4 linked regions of the Homo sapiens genome follow. The protein of the gene in region 1 interacts with the protein of each later gene in a pairwise test. Each region holds a gene or a part of one and is shown on either strand. Other genes may lie near its edges. The genes, in order: DNALI1, IFI35, E2F8 and THAP3.

The links.
Region 2: the proteins of DNALI1 (region 1) and IFI35 interact in binary tests that used the Homo sapiens proteins (3 or more experiments, as listed by UniProt).
Region 3: the proteins of DNALI1 (region 1) and E2F8 interact in binary tests that used the Homo sapiens proteins (3 or more experiments, as listed by UniProt).
Region 4: the proteins of DNALI1 (region 1) and THAP3 interact in binary tests that used the Homo sapiens proteins (3 or more experiments, as listed by UniProt).

What each region holds. Positions count from the first base shown.
Region 1 is NC_000001.11:37,559,640-37,566,939, reverse strand, and holds the end of DNALI1 (axonemal dynein light intermediate polypeptide 1), read right to left. Parts: intron 5,384-7,300; coding exon 5,205-5,383; intron 4,860-5,204; coding exon 4,695-4,859; intron 1,915-4,694; coding exon 1,879-1,914; 3' UTR 86-1,878; downstream 1-85. Other genes in the region: GNL2 (nucleolar GTP-binding protein 2), read left to right, coding at 1-85. UniProt on the Homo sapiens protein: Involved in sperm flagellum assembly.
Region 2 is NC_000017.11:43,001,889-43,010,056, reverse strand, and holds the start of IFI35 (interferon-induced 35 kDa protein), read right to left. Parts: upstream 3,274-8,168; 5' UTR 3,110-3,273; coding exon 3,089-3,109; intron 1-3,088. Other genes in the region: RPL27 (large ribosomal subunit protein eL27), read right to left, coding at 7,137-7,185, 7,274-7,384. UniProt on the Homo sapiens protein: Acts as a signaling pathway regulator involved in innate immune system response.
Region 3 is NC_000011.10:19,237,793-19,245,252, forward strand, and holds the start of E2F8 (transcription factor E2F8), read right to left. Parts: upstream 3,154-7,460; 5' UTR 2,756-3,153; intron 2,439-2,755; 5' UTR 2,330-2,438; coding exon 2,315-2,329; intron 341-2,314; coding exon 62-340; intron 1-61. UniProt on the Homo sapiens protein: Atypical E2F transcription factor that participates in various processes such as angiogenesis and polyploidization of specialized cells.
Region 4 is NC_000001.11:6,627,705-6,634,199, reverse strand, and holds the end of THAP3 (THAP domain-containing protein 3), read right to left. Parts: intron 5,702-6,495; coding exon 5,509-5,701; intron 4,558-5,508; coding exon of another isoform or gene 4,476-4,557; intron 3,913-4,475; coding exon 3,847-3,912; intron 1,831-3,846; coding exon of another isoform or gene 1,810-1,830; coding exon 1,705-1,809; intron 1,405-1,704; coding exon 1,123-1,404; 3' UTR 638-1,122; downstream 1-637. UniProt on the Homo sapiens protein: Component of a THAP1/THAP3-HCFC1-OGT complex that is required for the regulation of the transcriptional activity of RRM1.

The sequences.
Region 1 (7,300 bases):
GAAAAATAGGAACAGGAACAAAAAGAAGACCAATGACTCAGAGGGACAGAAACACAAACGCAAAAAATTCAGACAAAAGCAGTAATGTTTAAAAGGTTTTTATTAAATTATACAAAAACAGGCAGTTAGAAATTGTGTTTTCTTCCTGCCCCATTGACATTTCTAAGGCCCTAATGCATTTGTTCTGAGGTTTGACAGTTGAAGCCCTTCACCAGTGCTAGGGAAATAAAGCCTCCTCAACCTTAAGGATTTCAGTGATAAGAGTCTGAAAGTCTAGCACTTCAGGTAGACTTTGGATGAACTAAGAGGTTCCACAGTCACCCTGTCATATAACTGTCTGACAGAAATAGGGGATGAGGTCTATAAAATGGAAAGGGTGGTATTTCGTTTTTATTGGTAATGAATGATTTGGAATAGAAGCATACAGAACTGCAAATTTCAAGGACGTTAGTGTACATGGCCTGGCCTTTGAAATACAAGGAGAAAGTTGGGTGCAGAAGAAATAGGAGAAAACTACAATAATTTCTGCCTCATTGAGTCTGTGAAGTAGACCCACTTATGGCACATACGTTCCTGTCTTAGAGGCCTGGAACTAGCAGATCTCGTGGAAAGAGTTCTTTCCCATGGAAATGACAACACAGGCAGGTCATTTGAGTGGAGGCTTAAAATTCCTCAGGATACTGGATCAGGGTAAAAGCTGCTCCTTAGATTCCAGATGAGAATGTGTATGGTGTGTTCAGCATAGGGAACACAGCTTTTCTGGGGAAATGACAGTGCTTCCATTGTGAGCCTTGAAGCTCACTGAACCCAAGACGGATGGCAGGTGGAAGCTCTGCTAAGGAGAGGCCCTTCTTACGCCTCTTTCTGGGGAACCTGAGCATGTTAGTGCCTTTTAGGTAATGTTACTTGTGCAGCCTAACTGAAGGATGAAGTCCTCCAGCTTACCACCCTAGCCCACCCTGGCTTGCCCCGAACTAAAGATTTATGTCACTCATTCAATCTTCTGGGTCTACAAAACCAGGAGAATGGAAGAGAAATACTAAAATGCAGTTGTCTAGCAGCCGTACTCCAATTATTAGTCATTAGACCTGCATGTGAGATTTAGTTACCTCTTCAGTTGTTAATTAACATCACTACTTCGGGGAGTGCAGAGTCAGGGCTTGATTTTCTGCAGGATAAGGGGAACAGATCTGTGCTGGGGGAAGAGCTGAGTTGCAGACAACTCACAAAGGCCACTGTGACTAGTATTCCTTTCTGGCAAACATTTACTTTCTCCAAAGCCATGGGTTTGACTGCCATTGTTTCCTAATGTAGGCAGTCTGAAACCGAGGAGGAAGGGGTCCAGTTGACTGGCAAGTGGGGATAATACATTAGAAAACCAAAGCTCCAAAGTGAGTTAGAAATGCATTAGAGTAGGGAAAAGAAGACATTAAGTAAGGAAGGCCAGAGGCCCAAGAAGCCCAAGTTAAGGTAGAAGATGAATTGTGAACTAAAAGTTTGAGGGGCAGAGAAGCAGATTCATTTGGCCAGAAATAAGTATTGGTATAGAGTGATGATGAGAAAGCAGTGGCTTTCTTAGAATTTGAGTTGGCAGTTCCCAAGGCTGGCTAGTAAGCCACACACGGAGACTAACAGGGCCACACCATCTTCCATTGCCCAGCCAGGAGCCTGGCTGGCAGACCTTAGGTGTCTGATGACATTGGAGTAATAGTGTGACTTCTAACAAATACCTAGGTGGTGTTTAGGGGAGGTTATGGCTTGTTCACTCAGGAAACTAGCTTTTTATTACAAAGGGCTTATGATGATTTTATTGGCTGCCAGAGGAACACAGTAAATAACTCCCAAGTGTCTTGTTGGAAATTAATCATGTGGAAATTATCACTTCTTTGGTGCAATAATGCCTTCCAGTTGGGCCTGAAAAACAAAAACAAGCTCCATTAATACTTGAAACTTGCAGCCTGATACAAATAGCTGAGAGGTGATCAAATCTCTGGGAAGAAGAATCCACATGCTGTCACTCCAAGGGTTCTTTTTCCCCTTGATCCCCAAATCCATATTTTCTAGATTAGCTAGTTTCTAGCTTGGCATACAGTCTTTAGTATATGAGGAGAAGCCAGAGCTGTCCTGGTTTCAACACAATAATGGCTCCGGGTATGATATAAAGCATTGAAAAGGATATTGAATGCATTGTTGTAAGGGCTTTTCATGGCTCAGGTTTCAGGCCAGAATATGTCTGCTAAGTTAAACATTTGGCTCTCTGGCCGGGCGCAGTGGCTCATTCCTGTAATCCCAGCACTTTGGGAGGCTGAGGCGGGCGGATCGTGAGGTCAGGAGATCCAGACCATCCTGGATAACACGGTGAAACCCCGTCTCTACTAAAAATACAAAAATTAGTTGGGCGTGGTGGCAGGCGTCTGTAGTCCCAGCTACTCCAGAGGCTGAGGCAGGAGAATAGCATGAACCTGGGAGGCGGGGCTTGCAGTGAGCCAAGATCGTGCCACTGCACTCCAGCCTGGGTGACAGAGGGAGACTCCGTCTCAAAAAAAAAAAAATATTGGCTCTCTGGTTTAGGATCCTGGGAGTTCTGCTGGGACCAGAGGTTTGGGAAACAGTGAATTTTCAGCCACTGAGACAACTTGGCACACAATTAGAGAAATGCTGCCAGTGAATACAGAGCTGTCCCTCTTTGTTGGGGGGTGGGGGTGGGGAATGGAGTTTTGCTCTTGTCACCCAGGCTGGAGTGTGATGGTGTGATATCGGTTCACTGCAACCTCTACCTCCCGGGTTCAAGTGATTCTCCTGCCTCAGCCTCCTGAGTAGCTTGGATTACAGATGCACATCACCACGCCCAGCTACTTTTTGTATTTTTAGTAGAAATGGGTTTCACCACGTTGGCCAGGCTGGTCTCAAACTCCTGACCTCATGTGATCCACCTGCCTCGGCCTCCCAAAGTGCTGGGATTACAGGTGTGAGCTACCACACCCAGCCGAGAGCTGTCCCTCTTTATGTAAAGCTTAAGACACTTGGGAGTTATTTACTATGTTCCTCTGGTAGCCAATAAAATAATACTGGACAGATCTTTAGGTAGGTCTATCCTGGGGACAGCAAAGCTGCTTTATTTGCAATGCAGTTTTGAGCCAATAAAAATAGCTCACTTCCTGTATTACAAGCCTGTAATTCCAGCACTTTGGGAGGCCAAGGTGGGCAGATCATGTGAGGTCAGGAGTTCATGACCAGCCTGGCCAACATGGTGAAACCCCATCTCTATTCAAAATACAGAAATTTGCCGGGCGTGCTGGCACATGCCTGTAATCCCAGCTACTCAGGAGGCTGAGGCAAGAGAATCACTTCAACCCGGGAGGTAGAGGTTGCAATGAGTTGAGATGGTGCCATTGCACTCCAGCCTGGGCAACAAGAGCAAAACTCCGTCTCAAAAGAAAAAAAATTTAAAAATGCCAACTTCTAAAGAATCTTTCACCCTGGAGATTACAAGATTGCTTTTAAATGTTAGAAACATGCTAAGGTATTTGGTTTGCTCTTGTTGCTAATCCAGGAAGAACTGAGGAACTCAGGCTTATGAAAAAGGAATATGGCAGTTAAGGAAAGCAGCCTCAGAGGCTGCTAAGGAAACAGATTCATCTCTGGCTGTGAAAGTTTCTTGCTTTTCTTTGTGCAACAAGAAAAGTTCCAGTAGTGGTTAACAGAAAGCCTTCTTTATCGCAAATGGCCAGTCCTGCTGGTGTGTAGACCAAACAAGCCTGCAATGTCAAGATTGTAAGGTTTCTATCTGAGCCTAGGGAGGAGAGGGAGATCCATCCAGGGTCCTTTGGCCAGGGCCATGGGAGAAGGCCACTAAATGTCAGTAGGCCATCTTTCCAGAACAGTGATGCTCAAACTTCTGCAAACATTAGAATCACCTGAGACCTTGTTAAAGCACATTGCTGGACCCCAACCCCGAATTTTCTGATTTGGTAGATCTGGGGTGGGCCCAATAATTTGTCTTGCTTTGCCAGGTGAGGACGATGTTGATCTAGGGCCTACCTTTTGAGACCTTTGGACCAAACAGCTGGGAGTTGCAGTGCCTGTAGCATGGCCTCCTGCCCAGCTTTGTCCACCAGCCCCCTCCCTCCTATCACCTCAGCTGGATAAAAGACCACTGCTGGCATCGGACTTCGAGGAAGAGCACCTGTGCCTGGGTTCCCCGACCACATTTCTGGGGAAGGTTTCTGATTTGAAATGGTTCTTCCTCTCAAAGGGCCCTGCTGCCCTTTGACTTCTTCCCTGGTTATGCCCTGAAACAGGGCCTCAGAGGAGACAGCCATGGGATGGCACTACCACGCAAGCCACCTGGAGCCCAGCCCCCTCCAGAAAGGCTCCAACATACCAGCTTCCAGGGGAATGGAGTTCCACTTTTTGCCATATCCACCTCTTCCTTGAGGATGGGCAACTTTTTTCCAGGGAGAAGAATCCTCCACTGGAGAGCCAGGCTGAGGCGCCTCAGAGATTTGGAGTTGAGAGTAGAGACCCCCTCTGGAGCCCTCCCCTTCTCCCACCACCAAAGTCAGCTTCCTTTATCCTTTGGCAGTGCATGTGGACAAACATTTAAAAGCCATGGAAAAGGAACCGAATGCCTGGCCTGTGGGGCTGGGTCGCAGGGCAGGGGGCACCTCCACCCCACCCTGCGCGTTGATTACCTTCAGCTGCTGATTTGTTCGCTTCAGGAACTGAATCTCCTCATTGTGCTTCTTCTCCTCCACCTGCCGCCTCTCGCTCTCCCGCTTCTCAGTGGCTTCACATTTTGCCTTCTGCTCGTTCACTTGCCTCTCCAGGTCTCTCTTTTCCGTCTCCAATTCTGCGATCTGAGGAGAGAATGCCCAGTCATCCTGGGATGTCGCCAGGTGAATGGAATGGTGTGAGCCTGGGTGGAAGGGACATGGGACATGACATTGCCAGGGTATATACTGCCACCCAGTGGGAGGTCAGTGCCTGGCATGGAGCGTCTACAGCGGAAACAACTCTGCCAAGACCACCAGGCTGGCCATCATACTCAACCAGGGGTCCCTCACTGAGGTGATGCAAGTCCAGGTGTCGTGACTGTCAGCAGAGCACCTTAGGAGGTCAGAATGTAGTGCTGGAATGATAAGCATGTGGCCCTGAGGTTTACAGAAGAGATGGGACCAAGGGTCACGGTAAACCCCACTCACTTTCCTCTCCATGTCTGACTTCCCCTGCTCAGCCTGCAGTGCCTTCCTCATGCCAAACGCCACGCTGCTCTCGTACAGGGTCTGGTAGGCAGCGATGGTCATGCGGATCTCGTCCCGGACTCGCAGCAGCAGCAGCCCCCTCTCCGCACAGTTGATGGTGACCTCCCGGATCAACTCATCTTCCAATGCACACACACCATGAGATCAGACAGGGCGTGGGGAGGGGGCTTGCAGTATGTCTACTGCAAACACCCTTCCTCTTGGGAAGGACATTAGGGTGTTCTCGCTTGGAGACAAAGTGCAAGGCCTCAGAGAAGGGCCTCAGGGAGGGTGCCTTCAGTGGCCCAAAGAGCCTTGCCATGCAGTCACTCCTCTGAACTTGGCACTTGTGAGTAGCACAGTCAGCAAGACTGGGTTGGCCAGAGCAAAGGAGACAAGAGGCTCTGGTTTGTTTACAGCACTGGGTCCCCTCCCTTCCTGCCTTAGGTAAAAACTGGTTACTACTCGAAAAAACCTGACTTTTTCTGTTTAAAGATGGCAGCTGTTTTAAAGCAGCTGGGACATCCTGTGTGCCCCCTTGGCTGCACTGGTTTGAGGGAAATGGCAGGGTCTAGAGCTTGCCCATCTATCTCCCCATAAATGCTGACCTGGAGGGCAAACCATAATAACACACGGATAGGGAAGCCTGCTAGACCCTGCAGCTGCCTGAGGGTTTGGAGGTGGTTTGCAGATCGGCGTCCATAAGAGCCAATGAGACTGGGCTGGGAGACAGCCATTTGACACCAGCACTCAAGGAGGTGCATCTTAAATCTCTCGTGTCTGTGGGTTAACAACAAATCACAATATTTTTCTGGACCAAGGGCCAAATATTGATGGATGGATGGATGGATGTAAATACTGAACATTAATCTTTCTGACTAAAAAATTAGCACATGCTTATTATAGAAAATCTTTGAAAAAACAGATGGAAGTTATCGTTTTACTCCAAACATCTGCTAAGGGGTGAGGAACTCAAGTTGCCAAGAATATAGTGGTTGGCAGCTGGAGGACTTGTAGAAGAGGCGGGGCTGGTGTAGGGAAAAGAAGGAGAGATCAGACTGTTACTGTGTCTACGTTGAAAAGAAAGACACAAGAAACTCCATTTTGACCTGTACCCTGAACAATTGCTTTGCCCTAAGATGCCGTTAATCTGTAACTTTGCCCCAACCTTGAGCTCACAGAAACATGTGATGTATGGAATCAAGGTTTAAGGGATCTACGGCTGTGCAGGATGTGCCTTGTTAACAAAATGTTTACAGGCAGCATGCTTGGTAAAAGTCATCGCCATTCTCCATTCTCGATAAACCAGGGGCACAATGCACTGCAGAAAGCCGCAGGGATCTCTGCCCTGGAAAGCCAGGTATTGTCCAAGGTTTCTCCCCACGTGATAGCCTGAAATATGGCCTGGTGGGATGGGAAAGACCTGACCGTCCCTCAGCCTGACACCCGTGAAGGGTCTGTGCTGAGGAGGATTAGTAAAAGAGGAAGGCCCCTTGCCGTTGAGATAAGAGAAAGGCCTCTGTCTTCTGCCTGCCCCTGGGAACTGAATGTCTCAGTATAAAACCTGATTGTACGTTTGTTCTGAGATAGGAGAAAAAACGCCCTGTGGCGGGAGGCGAGACATGTTGGCAGCAATGCTGCTCTGTTACTCTTTACTCCACTGAGATGTCTGGGTAGAGAGAAGCATAAATCCGGCCTACGTGCACATCCAGGCATAGTACCTTCCCTTGAACTTATTCGTGACACAGATTCCTTTGCTCACGTGTTTTCTTGCTGATCTTCTCCCCACTATCACCCTGCTCTCCTGCCACATTCCTCTTGCTGAGATAGTGAAAATAGTAATCAATAAATACTGAGGAAACTCAGAGACCAGTGCCGGTGCGGGTCCTCCGTATGCTGAGTGCCGGTCCCCTGGGCCCACCTTTCTTTCTCTATACTTTGTCTGTGTCTTATTTCTTTTCTTAGTCTCTCCTCCTGCCTGAGGAGAAATACCCACAGGTGTGGAGGGGCTGGCCCCCTTCAGCTGGGAAGGGGAAGGGGGCAGTTAGCTGTTGCTG
Region 2 (8,168 bases), on another chromosome or scaffold:
TCACCGTGTTAGCCAGGATGGTCTCGATCTCCTGACTTCATGATCTGCCCGTCTTAGCCTCCCAAAGTGCTGGGATTACAGGTGTGAGACACCGCGCCCAGCCCTCTATTTTTTTTTCTTTTCTGAGACGGAGTCTCCCTCTGTTGCCTAGGCTGGAGTGCAGTGGCGCAATATCGGCTCGCTGCAAACTCCACCTCCCGGATTCAACAGATTCTCCTGCCTCAGCCTCCCAAGTAGCTGGGATTACAGGCACCTGCCACCACTCCTGGCTAATTTTTTTTATTTTTTATTTATTTATTTATTTTGAGACAGAGTCTCGCTCTGTCGCCAGGCTGGAATGCAGTGGCAGGATCTCGGCTCACTGCGACCTCTGACTCCCGGGTTCAAGCGATTCTCCTGCCTCAGCCTCCCGAGTAGCTGGGACTACAGGCACGCACCACCATGCCCAGCTAATTTTTGTATTTTTAGTAGAGATGGGGTTTCACCATGTTGGCCAGGATGGTCTCAATCTCTTGACCTCGTGATCCACCCACCTCGGCCTCCCAAAGTGCTGGGATTACAGGAGTGAGCCACCGTGCCCGGCTCTAATTTTTTATTTTTAGTAGAGATGGGGTTTCACCATGTTGGCCAGGCTGGTCTCAAACTTCCCACCTGAAGTGATCTGCCCAACTCAGCCTCACAAAGTGCTGGGATTACAGGCAGGAGCCACGGACCCAGGCCCCCTAATCTTCCCATTTTTAATAGAAATAAAAAATCTGGGCAGGTTGTTGTGGCACATGCCTGTAATCCCAGCACTTTGGGAGGCCAAGGGAGGCAGATCGCTTGAGCCCAGGAGTCTGAGACCAGCCTGGGCAACAGGACAAAACTCTACCTCTACAAAATATTTAAAAATTAGCCAGGCATGGTGGCACATGCCTGTAGTCCCAGCTACTCGGGAGGCTGAGATGGAAGGATCTATTGATCCCTAGAGGTGGAGGTGGCTGCAGTGAGCCATGATCCAGCCACTGCACTGCAGCCTGGAAAAAACAGTGAGATCTTGTCTCCAAAAAACAAAAAATCTGGATTTTTATTTGAAAAAGATGGCCCAATTTAACGTATATAAAGCCGGGTGCTGTGGCTCAAGCCTGTAATCTCAGCATTTTGGGAGGCTAAGGGAGGCAGATCATGTGAGGTCAGGAGTTCGAGACCAGCCTGGCCAACATGCTGAAACCCTGTCTCTACAAAAAATTAGCCATGCTGGGCACGGTGGCTCACGCCTGTAATCCCAGCACTTTGGGAGGCTGAGGCAGGCGGATCACGAGGTCAGGAGTTCGAGACCATCCTGCCTAACACAGTGCAACCCCATCTCTACCAAAAATACAAAAAACTAGCTGGGCGTGGTGGCGGGTGCCTGTAGTCCCAGCTACTTGGGAGGCTGAAGCAAGAGAATGGCATGAACCCATGGGGCGGAGCTTGCTGTGAGCCGAGATCCTGCCACTGCACTCCAGCCTGGGTGACAGAGCGAGACTCCATCTCAAAAAAAAAAAAAAAAAAAAAAAATGAGCCAGGCGTGGTGGCATGTGTGCCTATAATCCCAGCTACTTGGGATGCTGAGGCAAGAGAATCACTTGAATCTGGAAGGCAGAGGTTGCAGTGAGCCAAGATCATGCTATTGCACTTCAGCCTGGGCAACAAGAGTGAAACTCCATCTCAAAAAAAAAAAAAAAAAAAAAAGGAAAGAAAAGTCCGGGCATGGTGGCTTACACCTGTAATCCCAGCACTTTGGGAGCTTGAGGGGGGCAGATCACGAGGTCAGAAGATCAAGACCATCCCGGCTAACACGGTGAAACTCCATTTCTACTAAAAATACAAAAAATTAGCCAGGCATGGTGGAACGTGCCTGTACTCCCAGTTACTTGGGAGGCTGAGGCAGGAGAATCGCTTGAACCCGGGAGGCAGAGGTTGCAGTGAGCCGAGATCATGCCACTGTACTCCAGCCTAGGAGACAGAGTGAGACTCCGTCTCAAAAAAAAAAAAAAAAAAGGGATTGTCCTTGGGGAACTGGGGTTCTGAAAAGGTTGGCAATAATAATATTAAGAAGAAACACATATTGAATGCTCTGTAGGTGCTAAGCAGTGGGATAAGTTTTTACCGTGTTAATCTATGGATTACCTAGTGTGATTCTTAAAGTATAATTCTTATAGTATATATATATATATATATATATATAAATTTTGTGTGTGTGTGTGTGTGAGAGACAGTCTCCCTCTGTTGCCCAGAGTGGAGCATAGTGGTACAATCTCGGCTCACTGCAACCTCTGCCTCCCAGGTTCAAGCAATTCTCCCGCCTCAGTCTCCCTAGTAGCTGGGATTACAGGTGTGTGCCACCATGCCTGGCTAATTTTTGTGTTTTTAGTAGAGATGGGGTTTTGCTATGTTGGCCAGGCTGGTCTCGAACTCCTAACCTCAAGTGATCCACACGCCTCAGCCTCCCAAAGTGCTGGCTGGGATTACAGGTGTGAGCCAACACACCCAGCCTAATTCCTTTAGTTTAATTTTTTTTTTTTTTTTTTTAGACAGAGTCTCGCTGTGTCACCCAGGCTGGAGTGCAGTGATGCAATCTCGGCTCACTGCAACCTCCGCCTCCCAGGTTCAAGTGATTCTCCTGTCTCAGCCTCCCAAGTAGCTGGGATTACAGGCGCACACCACCACACACAGCTAATTTTTTGTATTTTAGTAGAGACGGATTTTCACTGTATTGCCAAGGCCTCCCAAAGTGCTAGGATGACAGGCGTGAGACACCACGCCCGGCCTAGAACAATTGTTATTTGGGTCACAGAACCCGCTGAGTATCTGATGGAAACTACAGATTCTCTCTCCAGAGAAGTGTACACACACAGGATTTAATGAGCTCCTCCTGTCTGAGGCAATAGGTTAGGGAACCAACTCTTGCAGAGGCAACCCCAGCCCTGTGTTTCTCCCCAGCCCTTCAGCAGGTCTGAGATGGGCAGGGTGAGGCTTGGCTGCCAGGCCCTGAGATATCTGCAGGTTCCTAGCCAAGAGGATTACTCCTGTTTCCCCACTTCCCAACTCCCTCCTCCTCACTTACGGCATCCAGTGGGGCTGACATGGGTCTCGGGTCTGTTTGGCAAGAGCTGAGGCTTCAGAGCTGGGCACAGTGGCAGAATTCACAGCAACTGAACTCTTGTTTGTACCCCCCAAAGGGCTGTGGTCTCTCTCAGCCCCAGCAAGACCCGAAATACACCTCAGGAGGCTCTGCTCGCAGGCTGTTTGCTTCCACTTTCATTTCCGTGAAATCCCTGCCTTCTGGCGCTCACATGCCGCCCCCTGCCGAGGCTTCCCCACCCCTGGGAGGAGCCTTCTTGGTCAGCAAAGTCGACTTCACTCAGCCAGGCTGCCTCAAGGAAAGCCACCTCACCCCAACTGCAAACTGGCCCCCATCAACCATTCCCAGCAATCTCCGACAAGCCCATTGGTAGACCCTGCTTTGTCAATGGATTATTTCCCTAGAGCCTAGAATAATGCTGGGCACATTGAACATTGATAAAATAATTGCTGAATGAGCTGGGTGCGGCGGCTCACACCTGTAATCCCAGCATTCTGGGAGGCCCAGGCGGGCAGATCACCTGAGGTCAGGAGTTAGAGACCAGCCTGGCCAACATGGTGAAACCCCACCTTTACTAAAAAAATACAAAAATTAGCCGGGCGTGGAGGTGCATTCCTGTAATCCCAGCTACTTGGGAGGCCGAGGCAGGAGAATAGCTGGAACCCGGAGGCAGAGGTTGCATTGAGCTGAGATGGTGCCATTGCACTCCAGCCTGGGTGACAAGAGTGAAACTCCATCTCAAAAAATAAATAAAACAATAATTGCTGAATGAATGAGAAACACAGTCAGGACAGATAACGCCCATAGTTCAAGTTCACAAAACTGCCGGGTGCGGTGGCTCACACCTGTAATCCCAGCACTTTGGGAGGCCCAGGTGGGCAGATCACCTGAGATCCCAAGTTAGACACCAGCCTGGCCAACGTGGTGAAACCCCGTCTTTACTAAAAAAATACAAAAATTATCCGGGTGTGGTGGTGTATTCCTGTAATCCCAGCTACTTGGGAGGCCGAGGCAGGAGAATAGCTGGAACCTGGGAGGCAGAGGTTGCATTGAGCCAAGATCGCGCTGTTGCACTCCAGCCTGAGTGACAAGAGCGAAACTCCATCTCAAAAAATAATAATTGCTGAATGAATGAGAAACACAATCAGGACAGATAAAGTCCACAGTTCAAGTTCACAAAACTGCCAGGCGCAGTGGCTCATGCCTTGTAATCCCAGCACTTTGGGAGGTCCAGGCGGGTGGATCACGAGACCATCCTGGCCACCATGGTGAAACCCTGTCCCTACTAAAATACAAAAAATTAGCCGGGCCGGATCACACCACTGCACTCCAGCCTGGGCAACAGAGTGAGATTCTGACTAAAAAAAAAAAAAAAGTGCCAATCCCAGCAGCTGGGCCCACTGGTAACATGTGCCTATAGTTCCAGCAGGTTGAGGCAGGAGGACTGCTTGAGCCCAGGAGTTCGAGGCCAGCCTGGGCAACACAGTGAATCTTGTCTCTTAAAAAAAAAAAAAAAAAAAAAAAAAAGGCTGGGTGCAGTGGCTCACGCCTGTAATCCCAGCACTTTGGGAGGCTGAGGCGGTGAATCACTTGAGGTCAGGAGTTTGAGACCAGCCTGACCAACATGGGGAAACCCTGTCTCTACTAAAAATACAAAAATTAGCCGGGCGTGGTGGCATGCGCCTGTAGTCCCAGCTACTCGGGAGGCTGAGACGGGGGAATCGCTTGAACCCGGGAGGCGGAGCTTGCAGTGAGCCGAGATCGTGCCACTGCACTCCAGCTGGGTGACAGAGCGAGACTCTGGCTCAAAAAAAAAAAAAAGAAAAAAGTTCACAAAACTGTTAACAGTGGCCAGCAAGGAGAGCTATCGTCTGCCCAACACGCTTGTGCCTTACATGAATTAACTCTTCAAAACAATGCCATGAAGTTGGTTCTATTTTCTTCACTTTACAGATGAGAAAATTGAGGCACAGAGCATTAGAAACTTGCCCAAGGTCACAGGGCTAGGAATCAAAGCATGGATCCAAACCTGGTAGGAACAGTATTTACACTTGGGCCTTGAGGTAGAGTGGAAAAAAATTTGCTGTATTTTTCCTCAAAAGTTTTAAATTCAGCCCCATTTCTGTGACCCTGAGTAGGCAAGCTACTTAATAGAAGTCTGTCTCAATAGAGATGCCTTAATACTTAAGTGTGTGAAGATTCAATTAAAAAGTTTCCTGGCTGGGTGCAGTGGCTCACACCTGTAATCCCAGCACTTTGGGACGCCAAGGTGGGTGGATCATGAGATCAGAAGTTCAAGACCATCCTGGCCAACATAGTGAAACCCCATCTCTTCTAAAAATACAAAAATTAGCTGGGTGTGGTAGCACACTCCTGTAGTCCTAGCTACTTGGGAGGCTGAGGCAGGAGAATCGCTTGAACCCCGGGGCGGGGCAGAAGTTGCAGTGAGCCGATAGTGCCACCTCGCTCCGGACTGGGTGGGTGAAAGAGCAAAACTCCATCTTAAAAAAAAGTGGCTGGGCGCGGTGGCTCACGCCTGTATTCCAGCACTTTGGGAGGCTGAGGTAGAACGATCACAAGGTCAGGAGATCCAGACCATCCTGGCTAACACGGTGAAACCCCGTCTCTACTAGAAATACAAAAATATTAGCCGGGCATGGTGGCAGGCGCCTGTAGTCCCAGCTACTCGGGAGGCTGAGGCAGGAGAATGGCGTGAACCCGGGAGGCGGAGCTTGCAGTGAGCCGAGATCGTGCCACTGCACTCCAGCCTGGGCAACAGAGCAAGCCTCTGTCTCAAAAAAAAAAAAAAAAAGTTTCCTAGTAACCTAGCCCAAAGTTTTTTCCAGTTACTCACCAATCCTACTTTTGGCCCCTTCCCGCCACCCCGCCCCCTCTGGTTCCCAAGTGCAAGTGTGGTACCTAGCAGACTTGGCAAACTGGCCTGTTTGAATCTTAGTTCCCTCTAGCGACAGAACCATTCAGATGGAGCACCTATTTCATTCATGAAACATGACTAGTTACAGTCCATTGAGAGATAAAATGCCAGATCCTAAGAACCAAATGTCTCTCCTGCACTACACAGTAGTGGCACAACCCAATGCCCCAAAGCTCCTTTGATCACTTTCTTTCAAGTCTCTGCCAGCCAGGCCATTTGAGGAGCACTCCCTTGTCCTATTAAACAGCTGCTCTAGGCTCAGGGATTCACCAAAGGCATCTGTCGTTACCACCAGGAGCAGGTCTCCAGGGTGGTCCCCATCTCACCTACACCAGTACCAGTGTCACCTGAAAACCTGCTAGAAACTCAGACCTACTGGATCAGTCTGAGGGCAGGATTTCAGCAATCCGTGGTTTAACAAACCATCCAGGTGACCTCTATCTGTGCTAAGGTTTGAGAATTTCAGGTTAGTGGTTCTCAATCAAAAATACCTGATCCCCACCACTCAGGGGCCTTTGGTTGTCACAAGGAGGGGCAGAGTGTGTGTGGCAGAGGTTCTCCTGGCATGTAATGGGTAGAAGCCAGGGAGGCTACACAATTCTTCACAGGGATTATCAGGCTAAGGACAGAGGCAGCATAAATCTCATTAAGGCAGATTTAACATTTTCCCAGCCCCTCATCCATCACCCAGCGTCTTTTTTTTTTTTTTTTTTTGAGATGGAGTCTTGCTGTTGTCAGACTGCAGTGCAGTGGTGCTATCTCAGCCCTCCCTGCAACTTCCGCCTCCCGGGTTCAAGCAATTCTCCTGCCTCAACCTCCCGAGTAGCTGGGACTACAGGCGTGCACCACCAGGCCCAGATAATTCTTAGTATTTTTTAGGAGAGACAAGGTTTCACCATGTTGGCCATCTCTTGACCTGGTGATCCGCTCGCCTTGGCCTCCCAAAGTACTGGGATTACAGGCGTGAGCCACCGTGCCCAGCCCACCCAGTGTTTCCTATTCAATAATGTTCTCCTTTTCACAGTCTGGTAATACATACAGCATGCAGACACAGGCTTTTTTTCTTTATAATTTTTAATGATCAAAACAAAGCATCTAAAACCGCAGTTTCTGGAAGAACCACTTGTTCTTGCCTGTCTTGTATCTAGAAGGGAAAAAAAGAGGACACCAATGAGGAAAGGAATGGAAATAGTGAAACCATACTCCACCATTCACTACCAAAGCCTACTTACCTCTCTTCAAACTTGACCTTGGCCTCCCGTCGGGCCTTGCGTTTAAGAGCAGGATCTCTGAAGACATCCTTATTGACGACAGTTTTGTCCAAGGGGATATCCACAGAGTACCTGGGGACAAAGGTGGAGAGGCAGGATTAGCCCACATACTGCCGGGGCCCCTATACAGCCCAAATCCTTGTGGGACACTAGGGAATCAGGGTCTGACTCCTTAGAAGCAACCATCAAAAGCCATGTCCCGATGACATTATCTGAAAATTCACACTTTTTTTTTTTTGAGACGGAGTCTGAATCTTTCGTCCAGGCTGGACTGCAGTGGTGTGATCTCAGCTCATTGCAAGTTCCGCCTCCCGGGTTCACGCCATTCTCCTGCCTCAGCCTCCCGAGTAGCTGGGACTACAGGTGCCCGCCATCAGGCCTGGCTAATTTTTTGTATTTTTTTAGTAGAGACGGGGTTTCACAGTGTTAGCCAGGACGGTCTTGATCTCCTGACCTCGTGATCCGCCCGCCTTGGCCTCCCAAAATGCTGGGATTATAGGCGTGAGTCACCGCATCCGGCCTGAAAATTCACTTTTAACATTTATTGGATTCAAGCCAATAAAATGTAAAATTCAATGTTTCATTCTCAATTTCCCACAACTACTTTATTTTTCTAGCTAAGAATCATCAAATGAGGCCCTCCCCCACTTTTTGAGACACAGTCTCGCTGTTGCCCAGGCTGGAGTGCAGTGGCGCAATCTCGGCTCACTGCAACCTCCGCCTCCTAGGTTCACGCCCTTCTCCTGCCTCAGCCTTGCGAGTAGCTGGGACTACTACAGGCGCCTGCCACCATGCCTGGCTAATTTTTTGTACTTTCAGTAGAGACGGGGTTTCACTGTGTTAGCCAGGATGGTCT
Region 3 (7,460 bases), on another chromosome or scaffold:
ACAACCTCCCCCCTCCCCCCAACAAATTCCCCAGCCTCCAACCAGTCCTCTGAAAACCTACGTGTATACAGTCTTTGGCCTCAGGTAATCCACTTCTGTTGTCAAACAAACCCCTTTTCTGATCTCTGTTGCGGATCTCAGGGCTCACAGCACTGATGAGCATTTTCAGGTTGGCTGTCGGTGTCCACGGCTCTCCCTGAGAGCCTTCCTTGGGCTTGGTAGGTGTGGTTAAAGGGCCAAAGTCAGGCTGGATCTCTGCCAACACGATATTTGCTGTGGTGGATTCTTTCAGAGGTGTTTTCATTAGTCCCCTTTTATGTGGCTCACAAAAGAGATTTTCCTGGTTTAAAAAATGTAAATAATTAAATCCATGGTAAAACAGGATTTATCAGACAGCTTGGATTCTAGAAATTGCATAACGAATAGAATCATGCCAAGGAAAAAATGTCTAATGAGATTGTAGAGTTGAGGAAATTAATAACTGTATTCTAATGGTCATGTGATGTGTATTGTCAATTCTAATAATTACATTTCCCATTTTTAATTTTGCAATAAGCCATAAATGTTTTCACCTTATGTTTCAACCACTGAAAAAACAACTTTAGTTAGGACTTATAATTTTAATTGTATTTTGAAATAGTTTTAGATTTAGAGAAGAGAAGCAAAGACAGTATAGAGTTCCCAAATGCCCTTCACTCAGCTTCCCCTAATTGGACTGACAATGTTAAATGATCAAACTTCTAGAAATGACTTTTGTTTACTCATGGCACTGTAATAAGTAAAGGCCTACAGGGCAGAAATTCTTATCCACCTAGCATAATGGCTGCATGCAGTGGGTGCTAAATAAAATACCACTGAAGAGTCAGAGAGACAAGGAGACAAGAGTGAGGGATAGCATATGGTCAGATTTATCAGGGAAATCTAGAGTGTCCAACAGCAGGATTTCTGACCAGAAAAGTCTGCTCTTTGAACATCCACTCCCTCATTTTACAGATAGAGAAAATGGGGCCCAGAGAAGTAAAATGATTAGGTTGGTGCAAAAGTAATTGTGGCTTTTGCTACTGAAAGTAATGGCAAAAACAGCAATTATGTTTGCATCAACCTAACAGCTACCTAAGACCACAAAGCTAGATCCTGGCAGAAGCAGGATAGCCACTGAGACAAAAGGGTAAATTAACAGCAGTTCATAAATAAGGCTAATGGAGACTATGTTCCTTCCAGTTTTGGACACCAGGGACTTCACACACTACTCCCATCTTTATCTATTTTAAAGAAAATGCTTGGAACAGCAATAAGTAAAATAATAGGCAGACCAAATAACTTTAAGAACATGGACAAATGGGACATGTTGTGACATCTTGGGTTTATCAAGTGCATTTCCGTTTGTATGTTCATGGAATCCTGCATTCTTAGCTCGCAGAAGAGAAGATGCAGGCTGAGAGAGGTCACGTAGGAGTGGAACACAGATATTTTCACTCCAAGTATGGTGCTCTTCTTACATGGAAGTCAGTATGGTGGACCCAACAGGAGCTCCTTGCCAGTGTGTGCATCTGAGATGTACTGATCTGACAATAGGCTTTTTCTTTGCCTCAGATTATCAGAAGCAATAGTAATTCTCTTATTTGACTAACATCTAAAACTATTAGGAAATATGCATGTAAGTTCACTTTTTTAAACCTATTAGTAGTTGGACACCCCCCACAGACAATTCTTTTGTAATTTTACAAAATGTTTGCCCCCTAAACAGAGCATTTTGCAGACCCCATAAATAAGCTGCCAATTTGGTAAAAAATTATCTTAAAAAGAAATTCAGTCTCCAAACATGTCAAATGCCCTTTCTGAATTCCAAGTTGTTCAAGAATCCTCAGAAATGTTGTAATGAAACTAACGAATTTTTGAAGAGGGGTAGGTTTGCCCCTTTACACTCTTTCTAGTTTTTAATGATTTGGTAGCTGTCTCAGACATAAAGAGAGAAAAGGTATTTTTAAGAATAATAAAATTTGTTAGTTTCATTACAACATTTCTGAGGATTCTTGAACAACTGGAATTCAGAAAGGGCATTTGACATGATTGGAGACTGAATTTCTTTTTAAGATAATTTTCATTTTTTAAACTATATTAATTAAATTAGTATATATTTTAAACTATATATTTTTGAAACTATAAGATAAGGTTCATTTTTTCCAGGTCTTTACAGAGGCTAACCAAGGTTGTGGCATTAAGAAAACACATTGGATAGGGAAAAATTATGGAGTTAAATCAGGATGATACTGAATTTAAAATTGCAATGATGAATACTGAAGTTATAAAGTACCTTTTCGTTCTCCATTCTGTAAATTCCTCATACATTTAGAGTTTAAAAATGAAAAATCTGGAGTTCCTCCCCAAATCCCGATGGTTCAAGTAGTCCAATCAATTGTACTAAAAGTTTTAATATCCTTAAAGAAAAAAGGAAATAGAAAAAGTTAGAGAAAAACAAGAACCAAAAGATCTGTTGAAAATTCCTTCACGGACAAGAGGCTACGGAAACAAAGCCTAACGAAAAATGACAAACTAGATTTACATTTTATTCTCGACCAGAGATCGCCCCACTGAGCGGAGAACGCCAACAAATGCCAGTAAATTCCTTCAGCAAACGGATCGGCGGTCCTAAGACTTCAAGCAACCCACGGAATTTCTAGTGACAGCCCTCTCCCATCTGTAGAAAAGGCGAGCCATTCTCCGGACCCCAGCGAATACTTTAGGAAGCACCCACCTGTTCGCAGATCAGGGCTCCGGACTAAGCGCACGAGCCCAGGTCCCAGCTGAGCGCACGCGACCCCAAGTAACTGGGTACAAGTCTGCATCTAGATGCCTGGATTTCTCCCCTTACACACACGTGCACAGGCTCAGCAGTAAAGTCGTGGGAGGTCGCTTGACAGGAAAGTTCCAAATTCAGTCCCAAAGCTCCAAGTATGCAGTTGGGCATTTAAAGAGTCTTATAATTAAGACTTTTTTTTTAAATTTAAAAAAGGGCTTCCTTAAAGATACAAAGCACTATTTACTCCCTGTTCGGGTGGCCAGTTCACACCACGGCGTTAGACTCCACCTTGGAAGGCTGTATTTGCCCAATAAGGCAAGCAGGTACTGTCCCCCGGCCGCCACTCGCTCAGTGCACTTCCCCCAACTTTCGGCCAAAGGCCCCTCCCCCAGGCCCTGTCCGCCCGCCGCAGTCCCGACAGTTCCCGGACAGCATCATCGTGGTTTCCAGGACAACAATTCCCGACCAATCAGAGGGCCGGAAGCGGGCCTGCGATTGGCCGACGGCGCCAGGGGCGGGGCCGGACCTTCCGCCTTCGATTTAAAAATTTGGCGCGGAAAGTCGGACCGTGGCCGGCGCCTCCCCTTAGCTGCGCGGGGCCTGAGCGCGGGCAAACCCGCGCCCGGAACCACGGCAACCCCGCCCCTCCCCCTCGTTCGCCCCCGCCCCTCTGCGCGGGAGCTCAGCTCCTCCCTCACGGCCCCCGGCGAAGCGGGAGGCGGGAAACGGCCGCCGCCGCCGCCGCCGCCACCCTCCCGAGCCCTCTCCCGGTGCCGTGTCGCCCGGGCGCCGCGCCCCTCTGCGTCCCGCTGACCTGTCAGTCCACCTCACGGCGGGAGCCGGCGGGGGCTGAGCCGGGACTCGTCAGCACCGCTGCCCCTCTCAGGCCCGGGAGCCCGCGTACCTGGCAGTCAGTCTTTCCGCAGCGCCGAGGTGGGTGCCGGAGAGAGACGCCGGGACCGGGACTGGCGGGCCGGCTGGCGGGCAGAGGGAGCGTGACCGTCCAGGAGCAGCCAAGCCCCCGATTTGAAATTAACCCGCTCCCGGCGCGAGCCGATACCGCGGGCGGGGAGGGCCGCTCCCCTCCCCCACGCCCGCTCGCCCCGGCCCCGGCCCCCGAGCGCCAATCCGAGCCTCCCGACCGTAGCCGCCGGCGAATCGGTGCAGGCACCGCCCTCCACTCCCGCCTCTACGGCAGAGTTGGGGGAAAAGTTCAGCAACTTTTTTTTCCTTTTTTTTTTTTTTTGCATACACCCCCTCCCCTTGCTCAAAGTTGGGGAATAAAATTTGGCCCGTCCGGGGCTCGCGGGCTGGGCCGCAGGCGCCCTGCGATTCCCCGCTTGGGGCTATCTCACCCCTGCCCAGCCCCAGGCCGGCTCACCTGCCCTCGGACTCCAGCCGGACCTCTCCCCCTTGCACCCCTGGCATGCATGATTGTGCTGCCCACCGTCTGCCCCGTGCCTCGCAGAAACTGGCGCGAGGAGGGAGAAGCTTGGCTACTGGTGCCTAAGCTCCGTGGGCTCTGGGCCTTGGCCCAGCGGTGAGAACTCAGGTGTAGGAGGAAGAGGAGGAAGGCGGAAAACCCTCCAACCCTGTCCTCGCCGTCTTTCCTCAGGGTCTCCCACCCACTCCTCCCTTTCTCTTCCCTGTTGTCTTTCCCTCTTTTTCCGGTCTCCGAGCCTCAGGCAGCTTTAGCCTGGTTCCCTGTAGAGCCCTAGCAGGGTCGGGGAGACACTTCGATCCTTCGTCCTCACTTTGCAGAACGGGACACCGAGGCCCGGGGCGGCGGCGCTGCCTCGGCTGCACCTGGATCATTTGCGCCCGCGTTGGCTCCCTTTGCTCTCCTCTGCCTTAGACTTTTCTGCGGACTGGTGCTGAGTGTTGCCCAACCGCGCCGAGATCTGGGCGCCGGTCTCTCGATCTGGACTCGGTTTGGCTCGTCCTCCTCTGTAATCGCGTGTCTTTAGGCTCCAGCAGGGCCCGGGGCCACACTTCCCCACTCCCACCGCTAACTTGGGGATCAGTGACTCTCCCATTGCTGACTAGCAGGGCGAGGCATTTTTATTTTCTGCGAAACGCGATGAGGGCGGGGATGCTATGATATTGAGGCTGGGGTCGCAGCGCAGCAGCTGCCGGCCATAGGGCCAGGGGTCTCCGTGGCGAGCGAAGGCTCATCTCCCCGCGGAACGCGACCGCAGGCTTGCGGTGTGGCCGCCCTGGAATGTTGGCGCCGTCGTGTCCCTGTCCCCCTTTCGTCGCCAGCTGAGGTGCAGGTCTTGCTCAAGAAGGCGCTTCGACCTGAAAGCAGGCCTTTCAGGTACTGTGCAGAGGGGCCACTGCCTGTGGCTCGCAGATTTGAAATAAAGCAGAGGTCACTATATAGGGTTCCACCGTTGCTAGCACTGAGCGGCTGGTTCTTACTAAGCCCAGGTACCCCTTTTTTGGAGCAAGACTGGGTTCTAAATGTATCAACAAAAAGTGGGGAGTTGGTGCTTCTGCTTTAGCCACTAGCTGTTGGCCAGATTGTCATCTCCCCCAACCCCCTGAATGGTCAGCGCTCCCAAGAGTGCATAGATTCAGCTATGCCTAATGTACCCGAAGTTATTACAGCCCCGGAGTCCTGTGGGCCATAAATCCCTTTTAAAGTTCTTTAGAAGCAGTCTGCCTCATGCACCTGTGTTCAGAGATAGTGACTAATTCGTTCAAATCTGTGATCTACAGGGCCATTCATGCTGCAGATGTCTGAGTGACAGTTACCTGTAAGGCACATCATGCAGGGAGCAGCCACCTCTGGTGACACTTGACAGATGGCCTCTCATTTCATACTCAGCACAGGTGTGAAAGCATGGGTTATGACTCTGAGAGGGAAGCAGCATTTTAAAGTGACAAACCCAAGGTCTAACTGTAAGGGACAGGACTGGGATTTGAAGCCAAGGGTGTTTAACGTCTCAGGGCTTTCCACTGAAAGCTGTGTTCACCACTGTGCGGCGTGCTCATCCTTACTTGCTTCATAGGATAGTTGTGTCCCATTTTATAGAGAAGAAAACTGAGGCACAAAAGGGTTAAACTGATGGCCAAGTTAGCTACAGAGCCAGAATTAGAATCCAGGTCTACCTGCTCCAAGTTCATACATCCCATTCCACTGCCTCTGAAAGTTCCTGTGAGAGCAATGTTAGTGCCAACTCAGGCTAGCCCTTAACCATTTCAACCCCTCCCTAAACACACAAAAAAACAGGAAGGTGAGAGTGTAATTCTTGCTTACTGATAGTTGTCATGTCTTACTGAAGGAAGTGAAATTATAGTCAAACTCATTGAATATGTTGAAAAGTGGTTTTATTAAGAGTGAAGTGATACAGTTTTGAAGTCTTAACAACACTTTCATGTAATGAAAGGTAATAAAGAAAGAAAGGTTCTACTCATCACTGTGTAGAGTATCAATTTGAAATGCAGCATGAGTGTAAAGGAGGGAAAAGACTACTGAAAACTTTTATGTTTACTGCATAACCAAGAAGGAAGGATCAGGGCATAAGCTTGAAACTTTTTTTTTTTTTTAATTTTCCCATCAAATATGTTTTCCACTTATTAGTTACATAATCCAAGGGAATATTTGTGTATTTGTTTCTGGTCTTTTGTTCATCATGTTGTGTAATCTGTGTCTCACTGAAGTTAGACCAGTTTTTCTACTCTGTGCTGTCGCCCTTCTGGATTGCACAACTTGGAGGGCTGATACGTTGTGTAACACGTTCAGCATTAAATAAAGTATTATGAAAAAAGATATCAAAGGTAAGGAGGAAAGATAGGCATCACCGGGGCGCCTACATTCAAAGGTAACATTTGGGATTTCTGAAGCGTGTCCCTTTTCATCATCACCAAAAAGACAGGCAAGACCTTCCCCTGCTGAGCAGGGAAGGATGAAGGGCTAAGGAAGGAGTTCTAGCTAATGGGTTTCTTGACCTTTTCTGTCTGTCTTGCTGCCCCACCTCCTAGGTGCTTATATCACCAACTCTGCTTCCTGACCTAGTGGGGCAATTTGGGTTTGTGCTTTATCTGCAGTACGTGTTGGCATAGATACCACGAAACAGCTCTCTGGAGCTTAAAACTGCACAAATCCCTATGTGCTGGGTTGGATTGTGGCTGCTCACAGCTAGATCTCAGCTATTCCTGGTCCTTGTACTAAGCCTACAAATGAATCATGCTGGGTCTAGTCTGGGCAGGGTTAAAGAGGATGGATACAAGCAAGGGACCCAGGAAGTGGGCATGCCTGGAGCTGGCTTGTGCTGACTGTGGAGCTAGACTAGGTCAGAGTAAGTCCCAGGCAGCAGCAGGGCTGTGTGTGAAATCCCTTCAGACTCTCCTGTGACCTCCTGTGGGAAATTCCTGATAGGCCCTGATGTATCCTGATGAGCCCCATATAGACATTTGCAGCCCTGGACTCAGCTGCAGCAGCAACAGTTGCTGCCATTTATTGAGCAATTACTGCTTCTAATTTCTTTTTTTGTTGTTTTTTTTTGAGACAGAGTCTTGTTCTGTCACCCAGGCTGGAGTGCAGTGGTGTGATCTCGGCTCACTGCAACCTCTGCCTCCTGGGTTCAAGCAATTCTCCTGCCTCAGTCTCTCAAGTAACTGGGACTACAGGTGCGCGCCACCACGCCCAGCTAAT
Region 4 (6,495 bases), about 31 Mb from region 1:
ACTCACCACAATAAACCTTTCCTGAAAGCAGAGGCTGGCGCTCTTCCGTGTATTGTGTGTTCATCTTCAGGAGGGAGGGAACCCCTTCCCCAGAGGCCTCCTCCCCATCCTTCACTCCTCACTCAACCACAAGGCTTCACGTGAAGCTGGGGTTCCATTTTCTACATTAAACAACATTGCCTGAGAAATAAATAGACCCCAAGTTAGGAAATCAGGCTAGAACTTTTTTCTTTAATTCACTAAAGCTATAAATTAGACAAAATAGGAAGTCAGTTTTTTTTTTCAGACTGAGTCTCGCTCTGTCACCCAGTGACAATACTAGAGGGCAGTGGTGTGATCTCGGCTCACTGCAACCTCCACCTCCCGGGTTCAGCTGATCCTCCTGTCTCAGCCTCCCAGGTAGCTGGGACTACAGGTGTGTGCCACCACGCCTGGCTAATTTGTGTCTTTTTTAGTAGACATGGGATTTCACCATGTTGGCCAGGCTGGTCTTGAACTCCTGACCTCAAGTGATCTCCCCACCTCGGCCTCTCAAAGTGCTGGGATTACAGGCATGAGCCACTGCGCCCGGCCACGGAAGTCAGTCTTCTTAGAAGGAATCACGGCACTAGAGAAAATGATGATGGGAGCGACACCGTATAGAAAGACACTTTATTACACTGCCCACTCACACCAGGCCGGGACAGGAGTCACTCCTTAGAACCCCGAGCGGCTGTCCAGGCTGATGGAGGAGGGGACCACTCACCCGCCACAGAGCCAGCCCCCTCACATGGCTTCCTCCCTGAGGAGCATCTCCCACACTGGGGCTTCCAACGATCTTTGCTCTGCGTGTGCTGAAAGGACAGCGTCCAGAATCAGCCTCAGCCTGGACTTCTGTTACCATGGGAGGATAAGCTTGTCATGCTCACAGATGTGCACTCCTAGTGCCACGCCTCTAAACGTCCCCCAGACGGCATTGGGGCTCTCGCCGGGGAGCTTGGCTACTGTCTCGATCCCCGGCCAAGCAGGCCTCATGGCCAACTTTCTCAGTGTCCACAGCAGACAAAAATGTCCACAGCCAGAGCTCCAAAGCTCTGCCGGCCCTGGTGCCACTGCCACCTCTGCGTCCGGAGCCTGTGGGGCTCAGCTCTGCTGCTCTGGCCCAAGTCTGGCCTGGAGTCCCTGGTGCCCTTTGCAAGCACGGAGGCGGCTGGACATCCTTCGCATCACCAGCCTCTGGGCCTGCAAGCGCTTCCGGAGCTTTTCATTTTCCTTCAGAGTGAGGAAGAGTTTTTTCTTCAGGGAATCTAAGTCCAAAAGGGCATAGCTGTGATCAGATGGCTGCTTGTTGGGGGTCCTTCTCAGGCCTGCAGGGCCAGTCGGCCGGCCAACAGCCTCTGTTGCTTGCGGCCTCCGTGGCGAGACCTGAGGACAGGGGAGTGAGAGCCTAGAGCTGCATCACCAGCAGGAAGGCGGGCCATGGTGAGCAGGCCACCAGACACGCACACAGCACAACCCCAGGGCAGCTAGACACTCCGGGCTGCTCCCCCAAAATCCAGATGTGCCCACACCATGGTGGAGAATTTGACTGGGGAGCTCTGAAACCCAGGCTGCACACCCTGCCTCGGCCACACAGGTCTCATGGTGGGTGCTCACTGGTTTCCATTTTGTTTGGAGCAAGTCATCTTGTGTCCAACCACAGACCACCTTTGCACTCAGTCTTACCTGTTTTACGTGGCCTTCGGCATTTGGGGGCAACTGAAGCTCTTCAAGTGCAGTGTCCATGTTTCTCCCAGGACTGTCCTCTCCGGCCCCCGCCTCAGGGAGGACCTGGGAACGGCAGGGTGAAGTCTGCACTACAGCCCTGCACATGCAGGGCCCTCCTGCAGCTGCTACTTGTCCCTCTAGGGGAGTGGCAACAGCCAGGGACCAGCTCCAGGGTCTGTGCCCCTCCACAGCCAGCTTCTCCCTAGCACACACCCTGGAACTGAACTTTTTTTTTTTTTTGAGACAGTCTCGCTCTGTCACTTAGGCTGGAGTGCAGTGGTGCAATCTCGGCTCACTGCAACCTCCACCCCCAGGGTTCAGGTGATTCTCGTGCCTCAGCCTCCTGAGTAGCTAGAATTACAAGCATGTGCCACCACGCCTGGCTAAATTTTTTTTTTTTTTTTTTTGAGACGGAATCTAACTCTGTCACCCAGGCTGGAGTGCAGTGGCATGATCTCGGCTCACTGCAACCTCTGCCTCCCGGGTTCAACCAATTCTGCCTCAGCCTCCTGAGTAGCTGGGACTACAGGCACATGCCACTACACCTGGCTAATTTTTTTTTTTCTTGAGATGGAGTTTCACTCTTTCACCCAGGCTGGAGTGAAGTGGTGCGATCTCAGCTCACTGCAACCTCCGCCCCCTGGGTTCAAGTGATTCTCCTCCAGAGTAGCTGGGATTATAGGCATCCACCACCATGCCCAGCTAAATTTTTGTATTTTTAGTAGAGACGGGGTTTCGCCAGGCTGGTCTCGAACTCCTGACCTCAGGCAATCCACCTGCCGCAGCCTGCCAAAGTGCTAGGATTACAGGTGTGAGCCACCAGGCCCAGCCGAATTTTTGTATTTTTAGTAGAGATGGAGTTTCACCATGTTGGCCAGGCTGGTTTCGAACTCCTAACCTCAGGTGATCCGCCTGCCTCGGCCTCCCAAAGTGCTGGGAATACAGACGCAAGCCACTGCGCCCAGCCCGGCTAATTTTTATATTTTTAGTAGAGATGGGGTTTTTACTATGTTGGCCAGGCTGGTCTCAAACTCCTAGCCTCAAGACATCCACCCGCCTCAGCCTCCCAAACTGCTGGGATTATAAGCGTGAGCCACCTCGCCCGGCCCTGGAACTGAACTTTAAGAAATCAGGCACGGCCAGGTGCGGTGGCTCCCGCCTATAATTCCAGCACTTTGTGGGGCCAAGGCAGGAGAATCCCCTGAATCCAAGAGTTTGAGACCAGACTGGGCAAGATAGCAAGACCCCCATTTCTAAAAAAAAAAAAAAAAAAAATTTTTAATTAGCTGGGCATGGTAGCACATGCTTGTGGTCCCAGCCACTTGGGAGGCTCAGGTGGGAGGATGGCTTGATCCTGGGAGGTTGAGGCTGCTGCGAGCCATGACTGCACCACTGTACAGAGCCTGAGCAACAGAGTGAGACCCTGTCTCAAAAACAAAGAAAAAGGTTGGGTGCAGTGACTCACATCTATACTCCCAGCACTTTGGGAGACTGAGGTGGGAGGATGGCTTGAGCCCGGTAGTTTGAGACCAGCCTGAGTAAAATAGCAAGATGCTATCTCTACAAAAAAAAAAAAGTGGGGGCCCAGGCGCGGTGGCTCACACCTATAATCCCAGCACTTTGTGAGGCAGAGGTGGGTGGATCACCTGAGGTCAGGAGTTCGAGACCAGCCTGGCCAACGTGGTAAAACCCCGTCTCTATTTCAAAACACAAAAATTAGCCGGGCGTGGTAGCGGGCATCTGTAATCCCAGCTACTCGGGAGGCTGAGGCAAGAGAATCACTTGAACCTGGAAGAGGTTGCAGTGCGCCGAGATCATGCCACTGCACTCCAGACTGGGTGACAGAGCGAGACTCAGTCTCAAAAAAAAGAAAAGAAAAAGGGAATCAGGCACGATCCCTACTAGCAACTGAGATTCTTTGATATTGAAAAGAAGGAAGCTGAGAGGCTTGGGCCTTCCCTCCAGAAAAACCGGGAATCCAAACTGGCATATGAGGAAAGGCGACAGCCCTGCGGGCCGGCCTTGCTGGGAAAATCCCACCTCCCTGTCTCAACCCACAGCATAATTTAAACATTCAAGTACCTGGCCCGGTGCACTCACCTTTTCTTTCTGAGAAGAGCTGGCATTTCCTCTCTCACTGGCAGGGTCTGTGTTCTCCCTCACCTGCTACAAGAGACACACACAGAGTGGATGCAGACCCCAAGAACCCTCAGAGCTCGGGGCAGGCCTCGGGCATCATGCTTGTCCCCGCTGCTCGGCCCACTGCATGCCCCAGTCAACGAACAGCTGCTAAATGAAACTGACCTGAAGCTCAGCCCAACTCACACTGCCCGCTTGGTGCGCTTCTCTTTCTCCAAAGATGTCCTCAAATCATGGTCAGAGTGCCCTGAATAGGTCCCTGTAGAGCTAGGGACCCATCTACTTCCTATGTGTCACCCCAGGGCCTGGCACCTGGCCCCATGACCGCCAGCAAGCAGCAGAAGCGCAGCTCACCACTCGAGGTGCCACTGACCCAGAACCTGCAGCCCCTGGGCCACACTGGGGTGGGGCCCACAAAGCAGAGCTGGCAGAGGCCGTACCCAGCTTCTCCCCACCAACCAGGCACTGGAAGCACCGAGGGCTACAGTGACAAACGTCCCCACTCCCAGTGGCTCAAGTGTCATCTTTCCAGGACAAACGTTATCACAAATACGTGAAGGTGATTAAAGTGTTCATCTATGGACACATACCCCGAGCACCTGGGCTGTGCCAGGCAGCGTCCTGGGTGTGGGGCCTGAAGCAGGGAAGGCAGCCCCTGCCCTCATGGAGATTCTGTTCCAGGGGAGAAGACAAAACCAATGAGGGAAACAGGAAGGACAGCAGGGGCCACAGGGGCCAGGAAGACTGAGGGGCAGGAAGGGGTCGGAGGCAAGAGGGGGTTTGAGGGTCCAGAAGGGCTTCCTGAAGGAAGGGACTGCCAACCTGAAGAGGTTCAGGCAGACTGCATGAGGCTATCTGGGAAGGGTGCTGGGGAGGACAGATGGGGCAGGGGCTCCCAGGCGGCCGCTCTGGGCGTGTTTGCTACGTGGCCGCTTTGTTCTTCCCATCGGCTCCACTCTCCACTCACGGATCCCTTTCCTCTCCCCATAAATCCACCAATGCAGGGAGCTGCTGGCCTGTGGCTTGTCCCGCCACTGCCCTGCCTGCCCACTCCACGTGGGTGCCCCTGTGGCCTATCATGCGATCTCAAGGCTTCAGCATCCAACTCTTTGTGAGCCCTCTCCTGAGCCAGGCCCACACATCCCACCTCCACCAAGGCAAGCTTGGCTCACTGCAACCTCTGCCTCCCGGTTCAAGAGATTCTCCTGCTTCAGCCTCCCAAGTAGCTGGGATTACAGGTGCCCACCAACACACCCAGCTGATTTTTGTATTTTTAGTAGAAATGGGGTTTCAACATGTTGGCTGGGCTGGTATCGAATTCCTGACCTCAGGTGATCCACCCACCTCTGCCTCCCAAAGTGCTGGGATTACAGACGTGAGCCACCGCACCCAGCCATAGAATAATTCATTTTTAAAATGCCTTTAATTTATGACTTCTCTTAAAGCCGAGGTCATGGCCAGCAGGGCCACAGGGCTGTGGACCCCAGAGGCGTGACAGTGCTGTTGTCACTGGAGTTCTTGGCCTTGGCTTTTCCCACACATGCCGCCACCCCCACTGCCCCCAGCTGCTGGTAAACAACGCAGGCTGGATGTGACCAGACGGAAGGTGCAGTGCCCTCCTACCTGTGTGGGGTCCTGAAAGGCGAACACCGTGGGCACGGCATTGTGCTTTAGGTTCTTGCGGTTTCCAAAGGCGCTGAAGCACTCTGGCCGGAAGTGCTCGGAGCAGATGACCGTGTGCTGCTTGGGCTTGAAGTTGCCCCGGCCGATGTTCAGCACCCATTCCTTCAGCAGCTCCGGGCGGCTGAACGGAAACCTAAGGGCAGAGGCACGGGGTGTGAGGCCCAGCAAGGCTGGACCCAGCGCCTCAGAGTCATTCGGAATTTTCACATCACTACAGAGTACTTCCCTGGACAGCTGTGGACATTCAGTCCTCTCGGTTTATTAAATCACATCTAATTTCTGGAAGCTTCTGTCACAGCTGTTAAAGCACTCTTAATAGGAAACCCGAGACCACGAGCATGGCCAGAGAGCCCAAGTGAGCTGCTTCCGATGCTACATTTGCCAGGAGCCTACCAGGAGCCGGGCCCTGTTCTTCGTGCTAGGGATGGGGGGTAATGAGACAGTCCTGGCCCCCAAGAGCTGATATTCTGGAGCGGGGGCACAGTGATGAGCCACACAGATGTGGACGGTGTCTTCTGGGGATGACAGCTGCTCCAGAGAACAGACAGAGGGAAGCCCTGGGGTGGTGAGGAGAGGCAGCTGAAGGGGTGATGTTTGAGCACAGACCGCAGGAAGTGGCAGCACAAGCGACGCAGGCTTCAGAAGGGACAGCAGGAACGGCCACTCACGCAGGTCCAGCTGAGACAGCGAGAGGGAGTGGGGACTGCATGACGCAGGGCCCTGAGCAGCTGGGGAGTCCCTGGAGGCTCTAGACAGAGGTGAGATGGAACCTGGGTCCACCCTGGCTGCTGTGGGACCAGGCATTGGCAGGAAGTGGTAATGAGAGGGCAGACTTGGATGTATTTTGAAAGCCATGCAGTAAGGTTTGCCTGTAGATGGTAAAATTGAGAAGGAAGGAGTTTCATGTTGGAGATAAAATTAAGTTAC